Homo sapiens: one gene and its partners. The protein of the gene in region 4 purifies or fractionates together with the protein of the main gene of each other region. This does not show direct contact. Each region holds a gene or a part of one and is shown on either strand. Other genes may lie near its edges. The genes, in order: ATP9A, RMND1, SLC30A5, RIC3, SLC30A7, DNAJC11 and TAPT1.

Evidence for each region.
Region 1: the proteins of RIC3 (region 4) and ATP9A purify together in Homo sapiens (affinity purification with mass spectrometry; 4 studies listed by BioGRID and IntAct, with this or other methods). This does not show direct contact.
Region 2: the proteins of RIC3 (region 4) and RMND1 purify together in Homo sapiens (affinity purification with mass spectrometry; 4 studies listed by BioGRID and IntAct, with this or other methods). This does not show direct contact.
Region 3: the proteins of RIC3 (region 4) and SLC30A5 purify together in Homo sapiens (affinity purification with mass spectrometry; 3 studies listed by BioGRID and IntAct, with this or other methods). This does not show direct contact.
Region 5: the proteins of RIC3 (region 4) and SLC30A7 purify together in Homo sapiens (affinity purification with mass spectrometry; 2 studies listed by BioGRID and IntAct, with this or other methods). This does not show direct contact.
Region 6: the proteins of RIC3 (region 4) and DNAJC11 purify together in Homo sapiens (affinity purification with mass spectrometry; 4 studies listed by BioGRID and IntAct, with this or other methods). This does not show direct contact.
Region 7: the proteins of RIC3 (region 4) and TAPT1 purify together in Homo sapiens (affinity purification with mass spectrometry; 3 studies listed by BioGRID and IntAct, with this or other methods). This does not show direct contact.

The regions. Positions count from the first base shown.
Region 1 is NC_000020.11:51,604,391-51,607,890, reverse strand, and holds part of ATP9A (probable phospholipid-transporting ATPase IIA), read left to right. Parts: intron 1-306; coding exon 307-364; intron 365-2,870; coding exon 2,871-3,074; intron 3,075-3,500. UniProt on the Homo sapiens protein: Plays a role in regulating membrane trafficking of cargo proteins, namely endosome to plasma membrane recycling, probably acting through RAB5 and RAB11 activation. Also involved in endosome to trans-Golgi network retrograde transport.
Region 2 is NC_000006.12:151,414,127-151,417,626, forward strand, and holds part of RMND1 (required for meiotic nuclear division protein 1 homolog), read right to left. Parts: intron 3,274-3,500; coding exon 3,153-3,273; intron 3,146-3,152; exon of another isoform or gene 2,955-3,145; intron 1,423-2,954; exon of another isoform or gene 1,292-1,422; intron 1-1,291. UniProt on the Homo sapiens protein: Required for mitochondrial translation, possibly by coordinating the assembly or maintenance of the mitochondrial ribosome.
Region 3 is NC_000005.10:69,097,014-69,100,513, reverse strand, and holds part of SLC30A5 (proton-coupled zinc antiporter SLC30A5), read right to left. Parts: intron 1-3,500. UniProt on the Homo sapiens protein: Together with SLC30A6 forms a functional proton-coupled zinc ion antiporter mediating zinc entry into the lumen of organelles along the secretory pathway.
Region 4 is NC_000011.10:8,159,026-8,162,525, forward strand, and holds part of RIC3 (protein RIC-3 isoform a precursor), read right to left. Parts: intron 1-3,500. UniProt on the Homo sapiens protein: Molecular chaperone which facilitates proper subunit assembly and surface trafficking of alpha-7 (CHRNA7) and alpha-8 (CHRNA8) nicotinic acetylcholine receptors.
Region 5 is NC_000001.11:100,979,174-100,982,257, reverse strand, and holds the end of SLC30A7 (zinc transporter 7), read right to left. Parts: 3' UTR 501-3,084; downstream 1-500. UniProt on the Homo sapiens protein: Zinc ion transporter mediating zinc entry from the cytosol into the lumen of organelles along the secretory pathway.
Region 6 is NC_000001.11:6,649,817-6,653,316, reverse strand, and holds part of DNAJC11 (dnaJ homolog subfamily C member 11), read left to right. Parts: intron 1-365; coding exon 366-488; intron 489-1,714; coding exon 1,715-1,788; intron 1,789-3,500.
Region 7 is NC_000004.12:16,177,972-16,181,471, forward strand, and holds part of TAPT1 (transmembrane anterior posterior transformation protein 1 homolog), read right to left. Parts: intron 1,687-3,500; coding exon 1,606-1,686; intron 1,599-1,605; exon of another isoform or gene 1,009-1,598; intron 1-1,008. UniProt on the Homo sapiens protein: Plays a role in primary cilia formation. May act as a downstream effector of HOXC8 possibly by transducing or transmitting extracellular information required for axial skeletal patterning during development. May be involved in cartilage and bone development.

The DNA of each region.
Region 1 (3,500 bases), on a different chromosome or scaffold from region 4:
TGTATTTTTAGTAAAGAGGAGGTTTCACCATGTTGGCCAGGCTGGTCTCAAACTCCTGACCTCAAGTGATCCACTTGCCTCAGCCTTCCAAAGTGCTGGGATTACAGGTGTGAGCCACCATGCCTGGCCAATTCTTTTTTTAAAGAAATAATTCCTCCAATGTGTTCAGATGTGTGCGAGCCACTTTATTGATGAAGACAGATGGGTTGCCTTATCTCGTTAGCGGGAGAATAACGTGAAAGCTGATGGCATGCTGCGTGAGCCCCCCGCGAAACCGGCTCTAACCTTTCTCTGTCTCTCATTCAGGGACGGCCGTTGTCCTACAAGACATTCTTAATATGGGTTTTGATTAGCATCTATCAAGGTAAGGATGAGTGGAGACACCTGTTTGTCTTGTGCTCTGGTACTGACTCAGGGTGTCCCCTTCTTGCCTGTAGAACAAGAAGAGAAGAAACGAATCTGAAATAGCAGGAAGGAGGGTGGCAGTGGGACCCAGGGGAGACCCTGCTCACCCTGTATAAGGACTTGAACATCAGACATGCACAGTGCTGCTGTGTGAGAAATGAGGTAGTGAAGCCAGAGGAAGGCAGTGGACAGTAATCAAAGCCTGTGGGGCTGCTCCACTCATGAGGCAAAAAGCAGATGCTTTCTGGGATGTTCTGAAACCTTTTCTGAGAGTCAGGTCAAGTCGTAGTTTTGGAAAAACATGTTTACCTCAGTGGCCTCCAGAGGGGGGTCTTCCCAGACTGTGGAGGCGTTGTAAGATGACCTGTTGGAATATAAGAAGAAAATAGCAAAACTTCTGTTTGTATTTATTTTTCCTAACTCTTTTAAATTTACATATATATATTTATTTATTTATATATTTTTGAGACACAGGGCAAAGCCACCATGCCCAGAATCCTTTTTTAGTATTTCTATTTTTATGTATGTTTTGTAGTGCACATAATAGATTTTATATACTTATAAAATATATTTTATATAATATGTAGAAACAGAGTGAGACCCTGGGTGGCGGAGGGTCTCACTCTGTTGCCCAGGCTGGAGTTCAGTGGAGCAATCACGGCTCGCCGTAGCCTCGACCTCCCCAGGCTCAGGTGATCCCCCTACCTCAGCCTTCTGAGTCTGGGACCACAGGTGTACACCACCACCAAATCAGTTTCCAAATCAGTTCATTTCTTCCCAATGGACTGTGAGCCACGAGTCCCTGCAGGTCCAGCAAGATGACCTCATGCTGTGCTGTGGATCCTGTCGGGTGCTGACACAGGCTTTAATTCCTGTCTAGAAACCTGTTTCTAGTTCAGCATCTTAGACTACAGGTGTACACCACCACACCCGGCTAATTTTTGTATTTTTTGTAGAGATGAGGTCTCACCATGTTGTGCAGGCTGATCTCAAACTCCTGGACTCAAGCAATTCTCTTGCCTCAGCCTCACAAAGTGTTGGGATTACAGGCATGAGCCACTGTGCCCGGAATCCTCACTCTTTTTTAGTATTTCCATTTTTATGTATGTTTTGTAGTACATATAATATACATGTGAAATGATCCTAATATTTCTATATATCTGGACAGGTACACATATATAACTTACAAATAAACATGTGTATTTGGGGATTATTATTATTACTATTCTGAGATGGAGTTTTGCTCTTTTGTCCAGGCTGGAGTGCAGTGGCGCCATTTTGGCTCACTGCAACCTCCGCCTTATGGTTTCAAGCGATTCTCCGGCCTCAGCCTCCCGAATAACTGGGATTACAGGCGCCCACCTAATTTTAGTATTTTTAGTAGAGGCGGGGGTTTCACCATGTTGGCCAGGCTGGTCTCGAACTCCTGACCTTGTGATCCGCCCACCTTGGCCTCCCAAAGTGTTGGGATTACAGGCGTAAGCCACCGCGACTGGCTGGGGTTTATTATTTTTTTAAAAAATAAATTTACTGTTCATGTCTCCTATTGGGGTTTATTCTTTTTTTTTTTTTTGTAACAGAGTCTTGCTGTATCACCCAGGCTGGAGTGCAGTGGCACGATCTCGGCTTACTGCAACTTCCACCTCCCAGGTTTAAGAAATTCTCGTGCCTCAGCCTCCCGAGTAGCTGGGACTACAGGCATGCGCTTCCACGTCCAGCTAATTTTTGTATTTCTAGTAGAGACAGGGTTTCGCCATGGTGGCTAGTCTGGTCTTGAACTCCTGGCCTCCAGTGATCCGCCCGCCTCAGCCTCCCAAAGTGCTGATTACAGGTGTGAGTCACGACATCATTTTATTTTTTATTTTTTTGAGACAGGGGCTCACTCTGTCACCCAGGCTGGAGTGCAGTGGTACAATCTCAGCTCACTGTAACCTCCATCTCCCAGGCTCAAGTGATCCTCCCACCTCAGCCTCCTGAGTAGCTGGGACTACAGGTGCATGCCACCATGCCTGGCTAATTTTTGTATTTTTTGTAGAGACGGGCTTTCACCTTGTTGCCCAAGCTGGTCTCAGACTCCTGAGCTCAAGCAATCCACCCACCTTGGCCTCCCAAATTGTGGGTTTTCAGGCCTGAGCCCCCGCGCCTGGCCGCGACTCCATCATTTTAAATATTATATTTAACTTTCTATTTCTTTCATCAACTCTAGATACTCCCCTCCCTGCCTTACTTCCTTTTTTCTCCCTTTTTCTCACTTTGTAGTTAAAGATTATTTATCCTACAAGGTCAAAGAGGAAAATCAGAAAACCATAGGTTCAGACCTGCATAAAGCACCAGTCATTAACCTCATGTAACAAGTGATGCCTTTCATGTCTAAATGAAAACTGCGGAAAGGAGCCAGGTGTAGGCGAGCAGCGCACGGCTTTCGCAGGGAGGGTGAGGGGAATACCCTTCTCTGGTGTTTGCAGGGAGCACCATCATGTACGGGGCGCTGCTGCTGTTTGAGTCGGAGTTCGTGCACATCGTGGCCATCTCCTTCACCTCGCTGATCCTCACCGAGCTGCTCATGGTGGCGCTGACCATCCAGACCTGGCACTGGCTCATGACAGTGGCGGAGCTGCTCAGCCTGGCCTGCTACATCGCCTCCCTGGTGTTCTTACACGAGTTCATCGGTAAGACCCCTGAATGCTTAAACCCCGTCCGTCACCCCCAGTGAATCTGGCCCAGAGGTCTCACTGCCGTATGAAGGAAGGGGGGTTCCCAGCGCTCGGCCTGGGCTCTTCCTCCAGCAGTCCTTCCCGCTCAGCTGTCCACGTTTTCTTAACAGGTGTTCTCTAGGGACAGGTGGTAGTTGTGCCTCAGGGTGTGAAATTGAGGACAGAGGGCGTGATTGCAGTAGACAGTGTTTTTGTTTTTCTTTTTGAGTCGGAGTCTTGCTCTGTCACCTTTTTTGGGCCACAAAATCTTTTTGTTCCCATGAAATCTTAATCTGAAGTCCAATCTATGAAACTGATAAAAGGGGACTTGTGATAGCAAAGTGGCAGTGCTGGGAGGTGCCGAGCCCCAGAACCTTGCCCGTGCAGCCCTGCCTTGCTGCT
Region 2 (3,500 bases), on a different chromosome or scaffold from region 4:
TGGCGTGATCATGGCTCACTGCAGCCTCAAACTCCTGGGCTAAAGCAATCCTCCTGCCTCAACCTCCCAGGGTAGCTGAGACTACAGGCACATGCCATTATACCTGGCTAATTTTTTTAAAAAAAAGGTTAGTAGAAATGAGGTCTCATTGTGTTTCCCAGGCTAATCACTTATTTTTGATGTGATACAAGGTGAATGTGGGGATTGGTAGGAAATATGATTGAAAAACAGAAACAATAGGAAGGACCTTGTATATCAAGCCAGAACACTTGAGGCAATGAGGGAAACTGGAGGTATTAAAATTAGTTGGAGGGAATCAGAAAAGACAATCAGTAGACACTAATATCAAGAGGTATCTGAGGTTAGGTATTATTAGATGATGTTAGAGCAACCATCATAAAAATGATTCAACAAGCAATTCTGAACACATTTGAAACAAACGAAAAAGCAGGAAGTCTCTGCAAAGAAACAGAAGATACAAATAAAAAAACATGGAAATTTTAGAACTGAAAAATATAATAAATGAAATAAACTCAATGTTGGGCAGCAGAACGAATGTAACAGAGGAAGGAATCAATCAACTAGAAGATGAAACAAAGGACATTACCCAATCTTAACAGAGACAAAATATACTGGAAAAGAAGTGAACAGAGCCTCAAAGACCTTGTGAAATGATAATAAAAGATAAAATGTAGATGTCATAGAATTATGGCAGATTTCCGTCAGAAACCATGGAGGTCAGAAGGAAGTGGCATGGCATTTTTCAGGTGCTGAAAGAAAGAAAACTGTCTACCTAGAATCCTATTTCTAGGAAAATATCCTGCAAGAATGAAGAGAAAATTAATACACTCTCAGATGAAGACAAACTAAGAGAATTTGTCTCACTAGACTTACCTTAAAAGAATGGCTAAATAAAGTTCTTGAAAAAAAAAAACAGTAAAAGAAATCTTAGAAGATCAGAAGGAGAAAAGAACAGAAAGAATAAAAACATGGGCACATACAACAGACTTTGCTTTTCTTAGTTTTCTAAATTATGTTTGATGGTTGAAGCAAAAATTATAACATTATCTGATGAAGTTTTCTATGTCTGCAGAAGAATAGTTAAGAAAATTATAAATACGGAAGGGTAAAGGAATATAAAAGAAATAAGAATTCTTTTTTTTTTTCTGCATCCAATCATCCATTAGGGAAATAAAGATTCTATACTTCATTTAATCTGCAAGATGTTGAAATCAGTAGATTGTAATAAGTTATATACGTAAGATGTAATAACCAGAGCAACTACTAAATATCTATGCAACGAGATATATTAAAAAGTAACATCAAAATGAAATACCAAAAAATTGTTTCAGTAACCACAGGAAGACAGGAACTTTGATACAAGCAACAATTTGGATGGATCCAAGTTGAGGGCATTATGCTCTGTGAAAAAAGCCAGTTAAAAAGTCACATACAGATCGAGACCATCCTGGCTAAACACAGTGAAACCCCATCTCTACTAAAAATACAAAAAAAAATTAGCTGGGCTTGGTGGCGGGTGCCTGTAGTCCCACCTACTCAGGAGGCTGAGGCAGGAGAATGGCGTGAACCCGGGAGGCAGAGCTTGCAATGAGCCAAGATTGAGCCACTGCACTCCAGCCTGGGCAACAGAGCAAGACTCCGTCTCAAAAAAAAAAAAAAAAAAAAAGTCACATACTGTATGACTATCTATATAACATCCTCAAAATGACAAAATTATGGAGATGGAGAAGAGATTACTCACTGCCAGGGGTTAGGGACAGTCCGGGTAGGGGGAGGGCAGTGTGACTATACAGGGTAGCATGAGGAAAAGTGATAAAACAGTTTTGTGTCTTTTTGTTTTGTTTTTTTTGAGATGGAGTCTCGCTGCAACGCCCAGGCTGGAGTGCAATGGCATGACCTCAGCTCACTGCAACCTCCACTTCCTGGGTTCAAGCGATTCTGCTGCCTCAGCCTCCCGAGTAGCTGGGACTACAGGCACGCGCCACCACACCCAGCTAATTTTTGTATTTTTAGTAGAGACAGCGTTTTACCATATTGGCCAGGCAGGTCTCGAACTCTTGACCTCAAGTGATCTGCCCACCTCTAGCCTCACAAAGTGCTGGGGTTACAGGCATGAGCCACCGCACCTGGCACAGTTTTGTGTCTTGATCATGTGGTTGCATGGATCTATAGATGTGGCAAAATGTCACAGAACTATGTGCACACATTGTACTAATGTCAATTTTCTGTTTTCTATGCTCTTTCCCCATGTGGTCTACCTCCATCACTACAGCTTTTTTTTTTTTTTTTTTTTTGAGACGGAGTCTCACTCTGTCATCCAGGCTGGAGTGCACTGGCTCGACCTTGGCTCACTGCAACCTCCACCTCCTGGGTTCAAGTGATTCTCCTGCCTCAGCCTCTCGAGTAGCTCGGACTATAGGAGAATGCCACCATGCCTGGCTAATTTTTGTATTTTTAGTAGAGACAGGGTTTCGCCATGTTGGCCAGGCTGGTCTCAAACTCCCAACCTCAGGTGATCCATCCGCCTCAGCCTCCCAAAGTGCTGGGATTTCTTAATACACGTCTCTTTTCCCGACTTTGCTTCTGCCCTTCTAAATGCCTGCATGACGGAGCTAATTGGATATCTTGTTGCTACTCTAATCTCAGCATATCTTAGATTTAGTCTGTCACCTCCCCTCTCTGACCTCTCATTATTGTTTTTCCACCTTTCTACTTGTCACCTCCAGGCAAACATCAGTCATCCTTTATTCTTTCTTCTCCATGGCCTCTTATTACCCATCACTTGATTTGTCTTACATGATTCTTTCTTAAATTTATTTCTATTCTCACTGTCACCATGACAGATCAGAAGCAGTCATGAACTCTTGCTTGAAACTTGACAAGAACTTACTGATGGACCATTAGGCTTCCAAACTCTCATCTTATTCACCAACCTTATCTAGTCTGTAGAGCTAATATCAGAAGATCCTTTGACACAAAAAATTGAAGTGACTGTACAGAGGACAAGAAGGGGAAATATAAAGAGATTTGAATGGAAGTCAAACAAGATATTTCTCTGCAAGCAGTTAAACATATTCAACTTATAGGCGACAACGTGTCTTTTTCTCTCATTAGAAGTGCAAAATACGTACCTTAACTCTTCGGCCAATGCTAAGGAATTGACACGTTTTATCGTAAAGTCCTTCCAGGTTTTCTCTGTCCCAGTAGAAATCAGGAGTAATCAGGAAGTCTGAACTCAAGTTTATACGGTGCCTTTAAAAAGGAAAATTATAACTTTTTATTTATCTTGAATTAAAAATCATTGTTTCTATTGTATTTAATATTTACATAGTGCTTTATGAAAACTTTTTTTTTTTTGGTAAGAGAGAGGGTCTTGCTATGTTACCCGGGATGGAGTGCAGTGGTGTGATCACAACTCACTGCAAACTGAACTCCTGGGCTCAAGCTGTTCTCCTGCCTCAGCCTCCCATGTAGCTGGA
Region 3 (3,500 bases), on a different chromosome or scaffold from region 4:
CAGGTGTGAGCCACCGCGCCCTACTGTTAACATTTTGAGGCCAGGTGCAGTAGCTTGAGACCAGCCTCCGCAACGTGGCAAAAGCCTATCTCTACAAAAAATACAAAGAATTAGCCAGGCATTATGGTGCGTGGTAGCAGTCTCAGCCACTCGGGAGGCTAAGGTGGGAGGTTGAGGTTGCAGTGAGCTGTGTTCGTGTCACTGCACTCCAGCCTGGGCGACAGAGTGAGACCCTGTCTCAAAATACAAACAGGCTGGGCGCTCATGCCTGTAATCCCAGCACTTTGGGAGGCTGAAGTGGGTGGATCACCTGAAGTCTGGAACTCAAGACCAGCCTGGCCAACATGGCGAAAACTCACCTCTACTAAAATACAAAAATTAGCTGGGCGTGGTGGCGGGTGCCTGTAATTCCAGCCACCTGGGAGGCTGAGGCAAGAGAATCGCTTGAACCCGGGAGGCAGAGGTTGCAGTGAGTCGAAATTGCACCACTGCACTTCAGCCTAGGTAACAGAGCGAGACTCTGTCTCAAAACGAACCAACCAACCACAACATTTTGGTATACATACTTCTGGTTTCTTTTCAATGTATATGAATGATTATGTATAGATACAGTTTACTTTAACAAAAGATGCCCAATGAAAAATGAAAATTTTGTTGATCGAGTTGCTGGACTATTTTGTTATCTGCTTTCTAACTTAATAACTCCTCCAAACAAATAAGGAGAACAAAATAAAAACTAAATTCTGTTATGAAATGAAAAGACCACAATATAGGAAGAAACGGAAGAATGGTAAATGCCTTTGGTTTGCGCCTCCTTGGCCTTGTTAAGTGACTACAGTGAGAGTTGTGGTTGAAAGGTCAATTGACTGGACCTAGAGTCCTAAAAAGGCTCAGGAATTGGAAACACCTCAGGAGGGGAATGAGAAGCTGAAAAGACGAGGATCTCTAGGAAGTCTTCCAAGTAATCAGATCCCCAGGTTCCCACCCAGCAGGCAGGCAACTATCTCTCCTCAACCACTATAGGAGTCACGAGTCTTAGCCTCTGGCGAGGTCACTTAAATTTCCTGAAGTAGACAACTCTGCTGGCTTTATAAGAGAATGTCCATGTTTTTAGGAAAAACAAGGATTTAAGGATAAAGAAGCATGAATTATGTAACTTATTCTCAAATAGTCCAGGGGAAAAAAATACCTGTGTGTGTGCATTCAGAGAGAATAATAAATTACACAGGACGATACATTAACAATTACGGAGTCCAGGTAAAGAATATACTACTCTTGTGACTTTTAGGTAAACAGGAAATTATTTTTAAATGAGTAGTTTAAAAGTGTTATTTATTCAAGAGTGTATTGTCTCAGGTAGGGAAATGTGGTAAACAATCCTTTGCTATTTTATTTGTACTATTTACTTAGCAGAGTTACCCTTCTATTGTAGTTTATTGCAGAATCAATCAAATGCAACTCAGGACTGGTTGAATTTTGATGGATTCCAGGTTGCAAGAGTTTTACTTTATACAGACCAAAAATCAAATACTAGTTATAATCTGCAACAAAAACTAGTTGACAAGTCCTTTAATTGTGGGTATTTTTATGCCTAAATTCACAAATATGGATTATTTTAAACAAAGGTTTATTTTGGTTTAAGTCCTCTTTGCGGGGAAGGGCAGAGGGTCACAGTTAACATTTGTTGAGCACCTGCTATGTTCCAAGTGCTTTGAATATATCATTTCATTTAATTCTTACAACAGTCCTACAAACTAAGAAGTGGTATCCTTGTTTCACAAAACTGAGTCGTAGAAAAGTAATTTGCCCAAGGTCACACAACTAATAAATAAGCTGGTAGTCCGAGTTGTTTAAAACCCCATGTATAGTGCCTTCTACATAGTAGATACTTGAGTATTTATTAAATGAATTGAACTTGAATTACACACTGATTTTTATTTTTTAGCCAGAGAACTGTTGAGCTACTGCAGTAGGCAAAGCCCAAGAGGCAGGTTTGAACCTAAATCCAGATTTCAGTAATTCCATGTTTAGAGAACCAGGGAATTTTCTTTGATTGAACCCCCGGGTTCAAGCAATTCTCCTGCCTCAGCCTCCTGAGTAGCTGGGATTACAGGTGCCTGCCACCATGTCAGGCTAATTTTTGTATTTTTAGTAGATGGGTTTTTGCCATGCTGGTTGGCCAGGCTGGTCTCATACTTCTGACCTCAGGTGATCCACCCACCTTGGCCTCCCAAACAAAGTGCTAGGATTACAGGCATGAGCCACCGCGCCTGGCGAGAACCAGGGAATTTTCTAAACCTTCACAGAAAAGTCCAGTGATAACCTTTGACAAGACTAGTTAATGGGAAATAATGGTTTATAAATTGGGGGTGTGGGGGGATGGGCCAGGCATGGTGGCTCATGCCTGGGAAGCCTAGGCAGAATGATTACTTGAGTCCAGGAGTTCAAGACCAACCTGGGCAATACAGCGAGACCCCGTCTCTCCAAAAAGTTTTTAAAAATTAGCCTCCCTCTCCTCTCCTCTCCCGTCTCCACGTCCTGATAAATCGACGCCATTGTTTTTCCTTCATAACATGAACTAGGAATGTCTGCTTATCAATATAGGTTACTTAGCCTGGTTTTTCATCTTTAGCCCAACAGTTCATTAATTGGAACTTTAAAAATCAAAGAATCCAGGCCAGGCATGGTAGCTCATGCCTGTAATCCCAGCACTTTGGGAGGCTGAGGTGGGACGACTGCTTGAGCCCAGAAGTTCGAGATCAACCTGGGCAACATAGCAAGACCTCATCTCTACTAAAAATTAAAGAATGAACTGGGCATGATGGTGCACATCTGCAATCTCACATACTGGGACCTCATCTCTACTAAAAATTAAAGAATGAACTGGGCATGATGGTGCACATCTGCAATCTCACATACTGGGGAGGCTGAGGTGGAAGGATTGCTTAAGCCCAGGAGTTTGAGATTGCAGTGAGCCATGATTATTTTACTGCACTCCATCCTGGGCAACAGAGGAACTGAACTTGTCAGAAAGAAAAGAAAGGGAAGGGGAAGAAAGGAAGGAATGAAGGAAGGGAAGGAAAGAAAAAGAGAAGAAAGAGCAGGGCGCAGTGGCTCACGCCTGTAATCCCAACACTTTGGGAGGCCCAGGCGGGCGGATCACGAGGTCAGGAGATCGAGACCATCCTGGCTAACACGGTGAAACCCCGTCTCTACTAAAAATACAAAAAATTAGCCCGGCGCGGTGGTGGGCGTCTGTAGTCCCAGCTACTCGGGAGGCTGAGGCAGGAGAATGGTGCGAATCCGGGAGGCGGAGCTTGCAGTGAGCCGAGATCGCGCCACTGCACTCCAGCCTGGGCGACATAGCGAGACTCCGCCTCAAAAAAAAAAAAAAAAAAAAAAAAGAAAAAGAGAGGAAGGGAAGAAACAACTAAAATCTCTAAGGGTGTTTTTTGTGTTCTGTTTTTTTCTAGTACATATACATTTACTTTTTTTTTGTT
Region 4 (3,500 bases):
CGGCCACAGAGCCTCCTTTCTAAGTAGGAAAAGAGACAATAAACAAGATAATGATAAATACTAAGGAGAAAAAATAAGACAGGGAGAAGGGGTAGGACCGTGTTGGAAGTTAAGATTTTAGCTGGAATGGCCAGAGAAGGCATCAGGAAATGCAGTTTGAGAGAAAACATGAAGACGAAGGGAAAGGCACATGGATATCCAAAAGAAGAGCATTTCAAACAAGGGAAACAGCAAATGCAAAGGCACTGAAGTGGGAACATGCTTGGCATATTCAAGGAACAGTGAGGAGGAAGCCAGTGTGGCCACAACAAAGTGAGACAGATAGAAAAGTAGAAGCAAATGGGGAAGAGAATTACATAGGGCCTTTTGGGTCATGTATAGACTATCTTTTCATCTAAGCCAGGAAGCCACTGTAGAGTTTTGAGGAGGGGAGAGATGTGAGTTGACTTAAGCTTCAACATAATACTATCTGGCAGCTATATTGAGAATAGACTGAAGTGGGGAAGGAGGAAGGAGGCAAACCAGGGTGACAGAGTAAGATGGAATAGAGCAACCAAATAACCAACTGGTTGAATGACCCTAAACAAAACGTTTCCATGAATACAGTGGTGGGACTCTAAAAGCAGTTTTAAATGACTAAGACATTTAAAAAAATAATTTGACCTATCAAGAAAACATGCTGAGGCTGGGCATGGTGGCTCATGTCTGTAACTCCAGCACTCTGGGAGGCCAAGGCAGGCAGATCATCTGAGGTCAAGGGTTCGATACCAGCCTGGCCAACATGGTGAAACTCCGTCTCTACTAAAAATACAAAAAAAATTAGCCAGGCGTGGTGGTGGATGCCTGTAATCCCAGCTTCTCAGGAGGATGAGGCAGGACAATTGCTTGAACTTGGGAGGCAGAGGTTGCAGTGAACTCAGATCCTGCCACTACACTCCAGCCTGAGAAAAAACAAACAAAAAGAGAAAACATGCTGATCATAATCAAAGGTAAAATTGTAAAAAAAGAAAGAAAAAAAGAAAAATTATAACATGGTGGGAAAAATTTGAACACCAACTAGATATTTAATGACATCAAGGAAGTATTGACTTTTTAGGTGTGACAATGGTATTGTGGCTACATTTTAATAAGAATCTGTTTTTAGAGATGCATACTGAAGCATTTAAGGATGAAAAATGATCCAATGTCTAGGATTTGCTTCAAAATAATCCAGTGAATGGGGGGAAAAGTGGGTGGGGATACCCATGACACAAGACTGACCATGTATTGATGGCTGCTGAAGCAGGATGATATGGATTCATTTTACTACTCTCTCAACTTTTGCTTATGTTTGAAAATGTCTTTAACAAAAAGTTTTTTAAAAATCAAGAATGGCACACAGCTAAGAAATGGTAAGCAGATACATTGAATGAAACATTGAATGCTCTGAAAAAATTTCAAGAGCTAGAATTCTTGGCCAAATTTAAACAAATAAAATGCAACAAGGAAAACTACAAATTCCTACATTTCATTCCGAAACATCAAGTGAACAGTAGAAAATGAACAAAACCTAGATGAGCAGCTCCTATTAAAAAGAAGAAAAAAAGGCTCAGAATTCTAATATACAGCAAAGTCAGCAAGGAAAATGCTAAAAACTAGAGCAATCCCCAGAAAGCATTAAGTATAGAAGAAGAAGAGTGCAGGGAAACAACAGATTGCTCTTTCATGAACTGTCTTAGATATGCTGTTATTTGCAGTTCTAAGAGCCTCTTCTGAGAGGGCTGTGTTCAAACACTTGCACCTAGGTCATACCAGGAACGGATGAGGGAGCTAGGGATGTTAACACAGGAAAGAAGACTGAAGAAAGGGACATAATACTACTTTTCCAATTCCTGGATTAATCATCTTACACCTGTAAACCAAAAAGTATCTGGGACAGGCCTCAATCAATTTAGAAGTTTATTTTGCCAACGTTAAGGACACGCCCAGGAGAGAGGTCTGTGCCTTTCTCCAAAGATGATTTTGAGGGCTTCAATATTTCAAGGGGAAAAGTGAGCTGGAGGGGAAAGAAGGGTATGGTAATCTATATGTTGCAAGAGAAAAGGAGCAGGTAGAGGAATAGTCAATTATGTATTCATCTGGTGCTCAGTAAATCGGCACTTCACGTAAGATACGGTGAACATAGAGTAGCTACCTGTAGAGATATTTAATTTTTTATCTGTAGCTACCTGCTTAGGAACAAAAGGAAAGGCAGTTTCTTGCACGACTCAGCTTTCAGCTTAATTTTTTCCTTTTGGCATAGTGAACTGGGGTCCCAAGTTTTTATTTTCTTTTCACACACCTTTAATCTACTTTTCCTCCATTCCTATTTTGGCAAAGGAAATCAACATCTATCCCTTCACCTAAACCTGAGAATAATCCAGATGTCTCCCTCTCCCTCACTTTCCCATTCTATTTTAAAATGTCTCTTAAAATTATTCTCTTCCCTCCAATCTATCCATTGATAACCTCTCTTGCTCTAATATCCATATTTTCCTTTGGGAACTCCTCTCAACTCCAGAGTGGATTCATCAGTATATTCTTTCTACCCACAGCACCACAAGTTAACTTAATTCAAGCCATTAACGTGAACGGATATGTTTGCTGGAACTTCTGGGAAAGAATCTTGGGAGTGAGGCTGGAAGGTGAGAGTGATGGAGGACTTAAAAGAAAAGAGGCCTGGAGCTGTGCCCAGCAAAGTGCTGTAATCCCAGCACGTTAGGAGGCTGAGGTGGGACAATGACTTGAGGCCAGGAGTTCCAGGCCAGCTCTACACACACACGTATATAAATGAGACACTCCCACTTTCTCCGGGCAATGGAATGTGAGGAGGTAATGTCCGAAACTGTTGCTATAAATGAGACACTCACTTTCTCCGGGCAATGGAATGTGAGGAGGTAATGTCCGAAACTGTTGCTATAAATGAGACACTCACTTTCTCCGGGCAATGGAATGTGAGGAGGTAATGTCCGAAACTGTTGCTATAAATGAGACACTCACTTTCTCCGGGCAATGGAATGTGAGGAGGTAATGTCCGAAACTGTTGCAACCATTGCTACCACCCTGAGAGGGCAGCCAGAGCACAGAACCAACTTGAGAACGAACCCAGAGTGAAAAGGACACAGAAAATAAGAGCTAGAGCCCCAGTGTGACAACTGTGAGTCTCTGGTTCAAACCATACTGCAAGACATTTCTAACACAGGGTCTTTTCATTTACACAAGTCAATAAATTCCCTGTCTTAGTCAAGCTGACTTTTCTGTCACTTGTCACAAGCACCCTAACTGGTGAACCCAATGACAATGACTTGGTGATGCTCATGATGTCTCAACTGGATGACTACAACAATCTTCTCCCTGAAGAAATCCTCACAACGCAGTGTCTACACTGCTGCCAGGGTGTCCTTTCTAAAACCAGGTTAAATGTTTCTCTTCTCCTTACACACTCAATGATGCCTCATCTGCCTTTAGAATAAAACCCAATC
Region 5 (3,084 bases), on a different chromosome or scaffold from region 4:
GAAGTATGGCAGAGATTGATGATAGTAAAGAAGCTGCTTTGGTAAGAATACCTTTGAGAAGGAAGGTGACATGAGTGGTGCATGGGATACTGTGGAAGAAGTTATTTTAAAAAAGAATTGCATCTAATCAGAGGGAAAAATTTGGAAGGATAATGGAGGCTCACATCAGATGTTTTGGTCTTCACGTCATATAAGACAAAGTCATCCATAGAAACTGAGATGAGAGAACAACTTGGGAGTGATGGAAATATCTGGAAGTAAATACTTCGAGACATGTTTATGAGGTCAGATGCTGACTAAGAGCCACAATGAGGCTGTTCACAATGTAAAGATACTTCCAACCTCCTAGCATCTCTTCTCTCCTAGTAAGTTCTGCTGTTTCTTGGCTCTGAGAATCATTCTTTGCCTTTCATTCCTTAAGTCCTCTAGTATCTATTCCAATACCTGTAAGATTCACAGTGTTTGTTTCAGTTCGTCAAACTGATAAGACACAATTCAGGTAGAGATTTTTAAATAGAAATTTTATTGAAAGAATTTTGATACAGTTCATGATTCTTTTTAAATACATATGAAGTTTAACAAAATATATACATGAATGTGTTCAAGTAGAAAATGTGAAATATACATTATAGATTTGTTGTATTGCACTTGGGCAAATCATAATTGCTCACTTCAGCATATTCAAACCGAATCACAACATAGTCTTTGAAAGTTGACATTATAACTTAGCCTTGTACTCAAACATTTTAAGAAATGTTTTGATGCCTTAATCTTCACCAAAGGAATCAAACCCAAATACTAACTTGGCCATATGTTTAAATACCACTAAAGGCAGGGAGGTAAAGTGTTGTAGGGTGCTTAAAATATACTAAGAAGGGATTTGGCAATTTTCCATTCACAGTATTTCCAATATAAAAGACTCATCCTATTTATCAAACTCACAAAAGTTGGGGGAAAATATCACTTGGGAAAAAATTTCACTGAATTGCTATCAAAGGAAGCAATGAAGTTACTTGACAAACTATTGACAGGATGTCTAGTTCAAAATAGAATCTTCATTGAGGCTAACTGTAGCACAGTATGTGATACATAAACAAAATTCAAATATTAAAATTCTAAATAAAAAAATTTTCCCCGCTAGTATAAAGTAGAAGTTCTATAGTGGAAATAACAATGAAAACAGATGAAAAATCAGTGAAGAAATAGAGGGAGGTACTACTAAAATTTTGTGTTTGAGAGGAAAAAGAGAAAGGTAAAAAATAATTCTGGGAATATTTAAATCAGTAATTGAATACATGTAGTGATGTCTTTAAAGCACCTTCAAGAAAGACCTCTTTCATTTTGGATGACAATACATTAGGATAAATGAAATATGTGAATATGGCAATTTTCCATAAAAACAAAGGAGACTATGGAGACTGTCTGGTTCCTGATTTGGCCATACAAAATATAGAAAATTCAAGTGACCCAGGTTCCACAGTCCCAATTCTGTCAAATTCCGATCCAACAATTTGTAAAATGGATAACATCTGTATACTTCCACTGTATATGAAAAAGAATGAGCAGCTCATAGGGCTACTTAAAAAAAAAAATGGCCAAGGTGAATATATAGTCATTTATTTGTGCAAAAATGCCAAAGAAATGCTGAGATGTCTTCTGTAAAAAACAGTAAATTACTGGTTTTACCTATCCCTAACCCTTATTTTTGACACAACTATCTAAAATGTTCACTAGTTAACCAAACATTTACTCAGCATGTGAATCCATGCTAAGTTTGAGGATAAAAGGATGCAGAAGAGAAAGATATTCTTTATTACAAGCTTTCCAACATCATGATCAAAATTACAAATAATTTTCAAGGCTGTTGTAAGAAGTCAACATTAAATGTTAAGTTTAAGCATAGATTACTACTATTTATGAAACAGATTTCTTCCTTTTGAAAGGTGTGTATAAAATGTGATGTAAATCAAATCTACTTATCCTTCTCCTGCAGTGCAAAATTACTTGTACTTTTGGGGAAGATAATTCCCTAATAAACTAAATTAAGGTCTCTTGGATAGAAATTCAGTTTCTCTCTTCATACAGCCACAAAGGGTACTATCTTTTCATTCAGTCCCTTAAGCAGCTTACTCTTCAATGCCAACAAAACTTTATTTTTTAAATAGTCTTAAAAGTGCTTAAGGGAGTTCTGGTTCCTCTTTTTAGCCTGCACAGTTTAAGATCAATGGTAAAGGTAGGAAATAATCATAAGGGCACTGGAAGAAGGAATGAGTCTAAATAATGTATAATGACTGTTCCGCCATACCAATTTTGTCATGGTGATTATTCACTAATTTTATAGGAGAGTGTATTGAGATCTGCTACAGCTTCTTGGATCTTTGAAGCACTGCTGAATTACATACACAAAGCAGAGCAGATGTCAGCACCTGATTAATCAGTACTCTACTACTGGCTAGATTCCCCAGGCAAGTCACTTAAATTATCTCCAAACAGCTTCCTCATCTGTAAAATAAGGATAAAAATTCCTTCCTCACAGAGATGTTATGAGAATTAGAGGAGATTTGAAAATGCTCCGTCAATCATAAAATCATGCAAAATTATTCCTTTGTAGAAATTTGAGGATTAAATGTAATAACATGAAGGCCACACTAACCGCCTGGCACATAAATACTTAATAAAAGTTATTCCCCATTCTCACTTTCTGTGTAATTTGCAGTTAGGAAATATAAATCAAAGACACCCTTGTCAGACTCACATCCATTTGGCTTTAACTAGAACTGTCCTTCCCTGCTCCTTTTCTTTTTTTTTTTTTTTTTTTTTTGGATACATAATCTTTCACTGTATTTGAGGCTATCTTGAGTCTCTGGTTGAGATCTGGGTCACTAAGGCTTCTGGGGGATCATGTCTTCAACAAGCCTTCCAATGAATGTCCAAAGAAAAACATATAATTTCCTTTTATTTTTTTTTTTACCAAAGTTCTTATGAATTGGAAAATAATTTGTTTCAAAGACGGTGATGAAAGGAAAAAAAAAGTTTAACTTTCCAAAGGTAATGCTTTCATGAAGAGTTAGAAATAGCAGTTTT
Region 6 (3,500 bases), on a different chromosome or scaffold from region 4:
TACAGCCATGGGAAGGTCTTCAGTCCCCCTGGAACCCTGATGGCAAACCACAGAGGGAAGGCACACAGTGAAGTCACTGTGCTATCTGATACCATTGGGACATGCAGCCCCATGTTTCCCCTGGTGTTGTGAAATGTGCCCATTAAAGCTTTTGCAAAGCATATTACCCTCGTGGTCACATGCAGACCAAATAACAAAGCGGAAGAAAAGTGAAGCTGTTGCGGCAGTTCTGCATCCATGTGTGCTTCTGAACAGAGGAATCGTCTGCACCTTTGGCCTTGGGCTCACAGTGCGTTCTTTAGGCTGCTGCCATTGGCACTTCCTGTTGTTTTGATTCATTCATTACCAGCAAATACCATTTTTAGGCACCCTTGACAGCGACAGACACAGCCATCCTCTCTGGAAGCCTCTCAACCCAGAATGGAAATGGAGGAGGTTCCATTAACTTTGCGCTCAGACGAGTAACTTCGGCAAAGGGATGGGGAGAGGTAAGAATGTCTATTGGCTGAGTTGTGTTGTCTGTGCAAAGCCTTATTTCTGAACATTTACACTCTCAAAGCTCACCCTCAAACTCACCCTGGGGGCCCCGTTGTTGTGTAAGAACGGTACCAAGTGTCAAGCTTCCATAAGTTGACTGGTCCTAAAAGAAAAATAGGTCTCATGAGCCTGGCCAACATGGTGAAACCCCGTCTCTACTAAAAATACAAAACTTAGCTGGGCATGGTGGCACCTGCCTGTAATCCCAGCTACTTGGGAGGCTGAGGCAGGAGAATCACGAGAATCACATGAACCCAGGAGGCAGAGGTTGCAGCGAGTCAAGATCGCGCCGTTGCACTCCAGTCTGGGGGACAAGAGCAAAATTCCGTCTCAAAAATAAATAAATAAATAGGTCTCATATCTGAGAAGTCCTGTCAGTCTTCCTCACAGTTTAAAATTGGCATAGAAAAACAAGGTTTCCTATGAGATGCCAACTTCTAGAAATCCAGCCTCTGAAACTCCGTGTGTTTGTTCCCTTTGAGCAAAAAGCCTGTGGGCTCTTTTTCCTGCACAATTCAGAAGGCAGGTGCTCTCTTCCGCGTGATGGTTCACTGATTGGTGGCCATTTAACAGCCAGTTCTGCCGAGCAAATTGAGCTGCATCAAATTAACATTGAAGAGTTGCTTGAAAGTCACCCAGACTAGTAAACACGGCAGCCAGGCTCAGCTGTGACTTCCAAGGCTGTGCGGGTGTGGAACCGCGGCTGGGCTTTAACATCAGGCTCCTGAGGACCGCCCCAGTGACCTGGGAGACATTTGGCGCAGGATGAAAATGAAAAGGAGTCGGCAGTGCATGCGGGGGTGGGGGGCACACCGGACCGCAGTCGGTGCTCTGCAGGTGGCGGGGGGCTGCGCCGGGAGGGGTAGGGGGAGCCAGCTGGTCTCCTGACCTCAGCCTGGGAGGCAAGGAACAGAGGGGAGCAGTTTTTTCTTTGGAGGGACACCAATGAAACATGTGCCTTTGAAGCCTGGGTCTCCTTTGGATCTGTGGCAGCAGACAGCTCCATTTGGCAAAGGTTAAGATGAGACATTAACAATCTTCCACCCCCTTCTTTTAGAGCCCTGGCAAGACCAGTGAATTGAATGAAGGAATTATACCTAGAGGTACATACCTGAGCCTGGGTTGCTGCTATGAGATAAAACACCATTAATGCCTTCTCTTTTTCCTTTTCAAACAGTTGGAATTTGGAGCTGGAGACCTACAGGGGCCTTTGTTCGGTCTCAAGCTGTTCCGTAATCTCACACCAAGATGGTAAATATGAGAGACAGCAGCTCCTCTTTGGTGGTCTTTGTTGGCTTAGGAGACTAGAACTGTGTGTTCTTTTTATCACAGTGGTTGGCACTATCTTGTCTGTCCTACAAGGTCACTGCGTACATCAAGGGCAGGTATAGCACTGGCGTGAAGCCCAGGCAGTGTGCAGGTGGGAAGAGGCAGGATTGAGGGGGCCGGACCCTTGTCCCAGCCCTGGCCAGGCTGCACCATCCAGGTCTCGCACCTCCCTTACCTATGCCACAAGGCCACGGAGAAAGAGTGCCTTCAGGGAGAGTTGGTCAGTGGACCGAAACACTTACAGACTTATGGATCGTTCCATTGTCCCAGAGAATGACAGACTGCCTCATCATCGGGTTGATTGACATATGCCAGAGATGTAGTCCCCAGCCAGCCTCTGCTTCCTGTCGTCTCTGCTGCTGCCATGTCACACTCCTAGAACTGTATATCCCTGTCCCTTCTAGAACGACAGCAGTGTCTTCATTTCCTATATGGTGGGTGCAGTGATGTCTGTGTGAGCTCAGATAAAAGAATTGGTGGAGGGTAAATAATACCTCTTTCTTCCAGAGGAAGATATAGCTGAAGGAGTCCTAGAATGGAGCACATGGAGTTTATTTTATTTATTTATTTATTTTGGAGACAGGGTCTTGCTCTGTCTTGCCCAGCCTGGAGTGCGGTGGTGTGATCTCGGCTCACTGCAGCCTCTGCCTCCTGGGTTCAAGCTATTCTCCTGTCTCAACCTTCCGAGTAGCTGGGACTACAGGCGTGTGCCACCACACCCAGCTATTTTTGTATTTTTAATAGAGATGGGGTTTCACCATGTTGGTCAGGCTGGTCTCGAACTCCTGACCTCAGGTGATCCACCTGCCTCGGCCTCCCAAAGTGGTGAGATTACAGGCGTGAGCCACCACGCCTGGCCTATTTTATTTTACTTTATTTTTGTTAGAGACGAGGTTTTGTTCTGTTGCCTAGGCTAGAGTGCAATAGTCCGATCATAGTCCACTGCAGCCTTGAACTCCTGGGGTCAAGCAGTCCTCCTCCCTCAGCCTCCCGAAAAACTAGGACTACAGGCGTGTGCCAACATGCCTGGCTCATTGTTTAGTTTTTTTTAGGGATAAGTTATCTCTATGTTGCCTAGGCTGGTCTCAAGCTCCTGGATTCAAGCAGTCCTCCCACCTTGGCCTCCCAAAGCACTGAGATTAGAAGCATGAGCCACTTCAGCAAGCCTGGAGTATATGTTTTTTGTTTTGAGACAGGTCTCACTTTGTCACCCCGGCTGGAGAATAGTGATGCAATCTTGGCTCACTGCACCCTCAACCTCCCAGGCTCAGGTGACCCTCCTGAGTAGCTGGGACTACAGGTGTGCACCACCATGCCTGACTAATTTTTGTAGAGTTGGGGTTTCTCCTTGTTGGCCAGGCTGGTCTCTTAACTCCTGACCTCAGGTGATCCTCCCACCTTGGCCTCCCAAAGTGCTGGCATTACAGGTGTGAGCCACTGTGCCCAGGCACAGTGGCATGAATAACTTTCTTATCAAACATGTATTGTAGGCTGTACAAACATGTACAAACATGTACAGGAGTTCGAGACCAGCCTGGCCAACATGGCGAAACCCCCTCTACTAAAAATATAAAAATTAACCAGGCATGGTGGCGCTTGCCTGTAGTCCCAGCTACTTGGGAGGCTGAGGTGGG
Region 7 (3,500 bases), on a different chromosome or scaffold from region 4:
GTCACAGTATAAATGAGAATATGACTTCAAATATCCAGCTGTCTAGGAGGCATAAAGACTATTTGTCTTTTGGTTTAACCACTCAGCTTTGGGAATTGCTGATCTTACATGTACTCTACCGGAACCAGTGACACATACCCCCTCTGCCCTTCATGGACACCCTGTTAGGTGACTTAGTTATAAAGAAATATACCACCATTCACTAAAACAAATTTGGGTACACAAAGAATCTAGCTGTGTGTGTGGAGGAAGAGGCTTTTCCACCACAAGCCAGGTAGCCTGCTCGAGCTGCTGTGAGATGTCATTTAATCTTATGGTTTCTCTATGAAAAAAACTTCTGAAAATGTATCTCCAAGACCGTATCTCTCATTTTATATGTTTTTGATTTTTCACAGTTACTTGAAAATTACCAATGAATTAAAATAAATTAAGAAGTTAATAAATGCCTATAACATATATAATACTGGGAGTAATAAATGAAATCCAAAACATGGTTGCATCCTTTAAGAATGAGATTCCAACAAAAACGTCAGACATTCAAACAAAAACTCTAAATTACTTGAGATACCTGAGAAATTGATCATTTCCCACTTAGCTCACTTAGCATTATAATTACCCACTTCCCCTTAATTAGCCTGTTAAGTCCTACAAATGTCGTAGTATTTTTTACATTGCCACAGTGCCTGTCCTTGTGCCTAGAAACTAGCATATGCTCAGTGAATGTCTGCTAACTGAATGGATAATGAAAATTCATGGAGTCTTGACAATTTCCTGTCAGCCTGAATTCAGAGACGCACCTAAGTAGCAAAATTTCCACCTTACTTTATATTTAATTTATCCCTATTTAAAATGCTAATCAATGGGTAAAAGATAATGTTAGGGAAGAGCAAAGGTTCTCCTGGTTAACCCCTAAGATGAAAACAATCTTTCTGGATTTAGGTAACTAAAGTACACTACAGTTAAAAACCGAAAGGCTCAGAGCTGCCAGGCATAACAGGGCGCACTCACCTACTGAGTGTACAGCTCCAGAGACACTGAGGAGTTTATGGAAAATGACAGCATCCCACTACACCACAGAAAACATACCCAATCCATTCTACTGAAACAGGTACAGTCATGTGTCGCTCAGCAACAGGGATACATTCTGAGAAATGTGTTGCTAGCCAATTTTGTCACTGTGTTAACATCATAGAGGGTACTTACACAAACCTAGATGGTATAACCACACACCCAGACTATATGGTATAACCTATTGCTCCTAGGCTACAAAACCTGTACAGCACGTTACCATACTGAATACTGCAGGCAAACTGTGACACAATGGTAAGTGTATCTAAACATGTCTAAACACAGAAAAGGACACTAGGAGACCAGGTGACAGGAATTTTTCAGGTCCATTAGAATCTTATGGGACCACCATCGTATATGTGGTCTATTGTTGACTGAAGGTCATTAAGTGACAGATGATTGTTTCACCAATACCCAAACAGTAAAACAGCCAAAGTCTTTTGGAGTTTTCTGCAATATTCATTTTATTCCATGTAAAAGAATGATTTTGGCTTAGAAGTAAAATTATAAGACACTGTTTTGTTAAGAGTGAGTTACCTGGATTCCAAGAAAACTGTTCCATGTTTCTTAGACACACTATCAGTAAAAGCACATAATTTGTGAATCGTTCCTTAATATCTAAAAGAAAAAAAATCAACATAAGTACTGTAGTGTATATAAACAACATAATAAAGTACATATATAATTATTTTAGCCAGAACATGATGAAATTATTAGACGATGTATAAATGTCTATAAATATACAACTTTATATATATATATATGTGTGTGTGTGTGTGTGTGTGTGTATATATAGGCTGGTGCTACCATGGTAAGCCATTGACTTCTTTTGCCAACATAATTCTAGTATGGAAATTCCAGTTTTCTATAAACTTCAAAAAGTATTCAAACCATCAAACTGCTCAGATGAGGTCATTAGGTTCCTCCAATGGGCTTTGGGGACATATGACAACTGTTTCCATTTTACGGAAGAAAAAATAGAAGCAAAGAGTAAAATGAAAGACTTTGGGTAACAAAATCCTTGTATAAAATCCCAGACTATTTCCAATCTGGTAAATAGTACACAATTACTGAACTGATGAGTCCTTTAGCTGAGAGAATCCTGCTACTACAATAGCATTTCCGGGGGTGTATGTAGAACTTGAGGTAAAATAACCCCAAATTGGGCTTCATAATATTTACCATAAACTAATAACTGTGTGCTGAGATTAGGTGGAAGGAATTTAATAAAAGCAAATCACTGAATTCTTGCTAAAGGCCAGTGTACACATTTCACTTTTTAAGCTGTTAACTTTCTCATAGTCTAAGATACCGTGTAACCAAGAAATGGGACAAAATAAATTTGTCTGCAGTTAAGAGTGGCACACCCATGTATGTGTGCCGATGCAATAGTGGGGGCTGTGACTAGAAACAATCACTCATATAACAACCCATCTCAAAAGCTTTTTTACAGTCTGCTGTCATTTCCCTACTTTCCCACTGCCTCAGTAAATGCAAGCCTCACCCATATCATTCAGCCATGGCGCACCTCCTGTAAGCGCTCTGAATTTCAATTTCATCCTGATGTACTTCATGGGACTGTCTTTGCTTCTCTTTTTTTACTTCCACCTTTCCCCATTATTCTCTAGCAACATGATACAAACTTTTATTCCACAGCAAAACCTTATTCTCTGTAAGCGAGTTGGCCTTTATTCTCTGTACCTTCCCTACATCCTTAAGCTCTTCCAGTCAGTTGCTGGTACCTTCTTTTTCAGGGTAGCTCACCTCCTTATTAGTGATGGGTCTGAGCTGTGCCTTCACTCCCTCAAAGCCCAGTGGGCACTACTCACTTCCTATTTCCAAAGCTGAAGCACTATTTATTATGAGTGTGAGCTCAGGGCACAGTGAGTCTCAAGGTACCAAGCACTGAGATGCCTCTTTAGGAGGCAGGGCACCTCCGGAGCAAGGCCATGTGGATTTTCAGGTGCACCTGTTTTGATTTGTCTAGATCACATGTTTAATTTATTCTGTGACTTCAAAAGAGGATACAGGTTAAAGGAAACTAAGAAAAGTCTGCCCTAGAATAAGTTCCATCAAAGTCTGACACAAAATATATTCTTTGTTACTACAGCTAACTGTGGATCTTAATTCATGGGGTTAAATTTACCAATGTATCTTTAATTGGAATTCTGTAGAATTATTCACCAAGCTGTACCTATATGTGTGCTAAGTCCTTTCTAATTTCCATAAATGAATTTAACAATGAAATGTATTTATTTTTGATACTTCCCAAACATGTATAATATAGACTTGCTTCATTACAGAATTATCTGAAAATAAATGGCCTTGAGAAATTTAAAACACTATCTGAAATGAGCCAAAGTAACTTTTGTAAACTCTAACAAAGCAAAACTACCATCGAATTTAAATTAATTGTATTTGATTTTTGGACA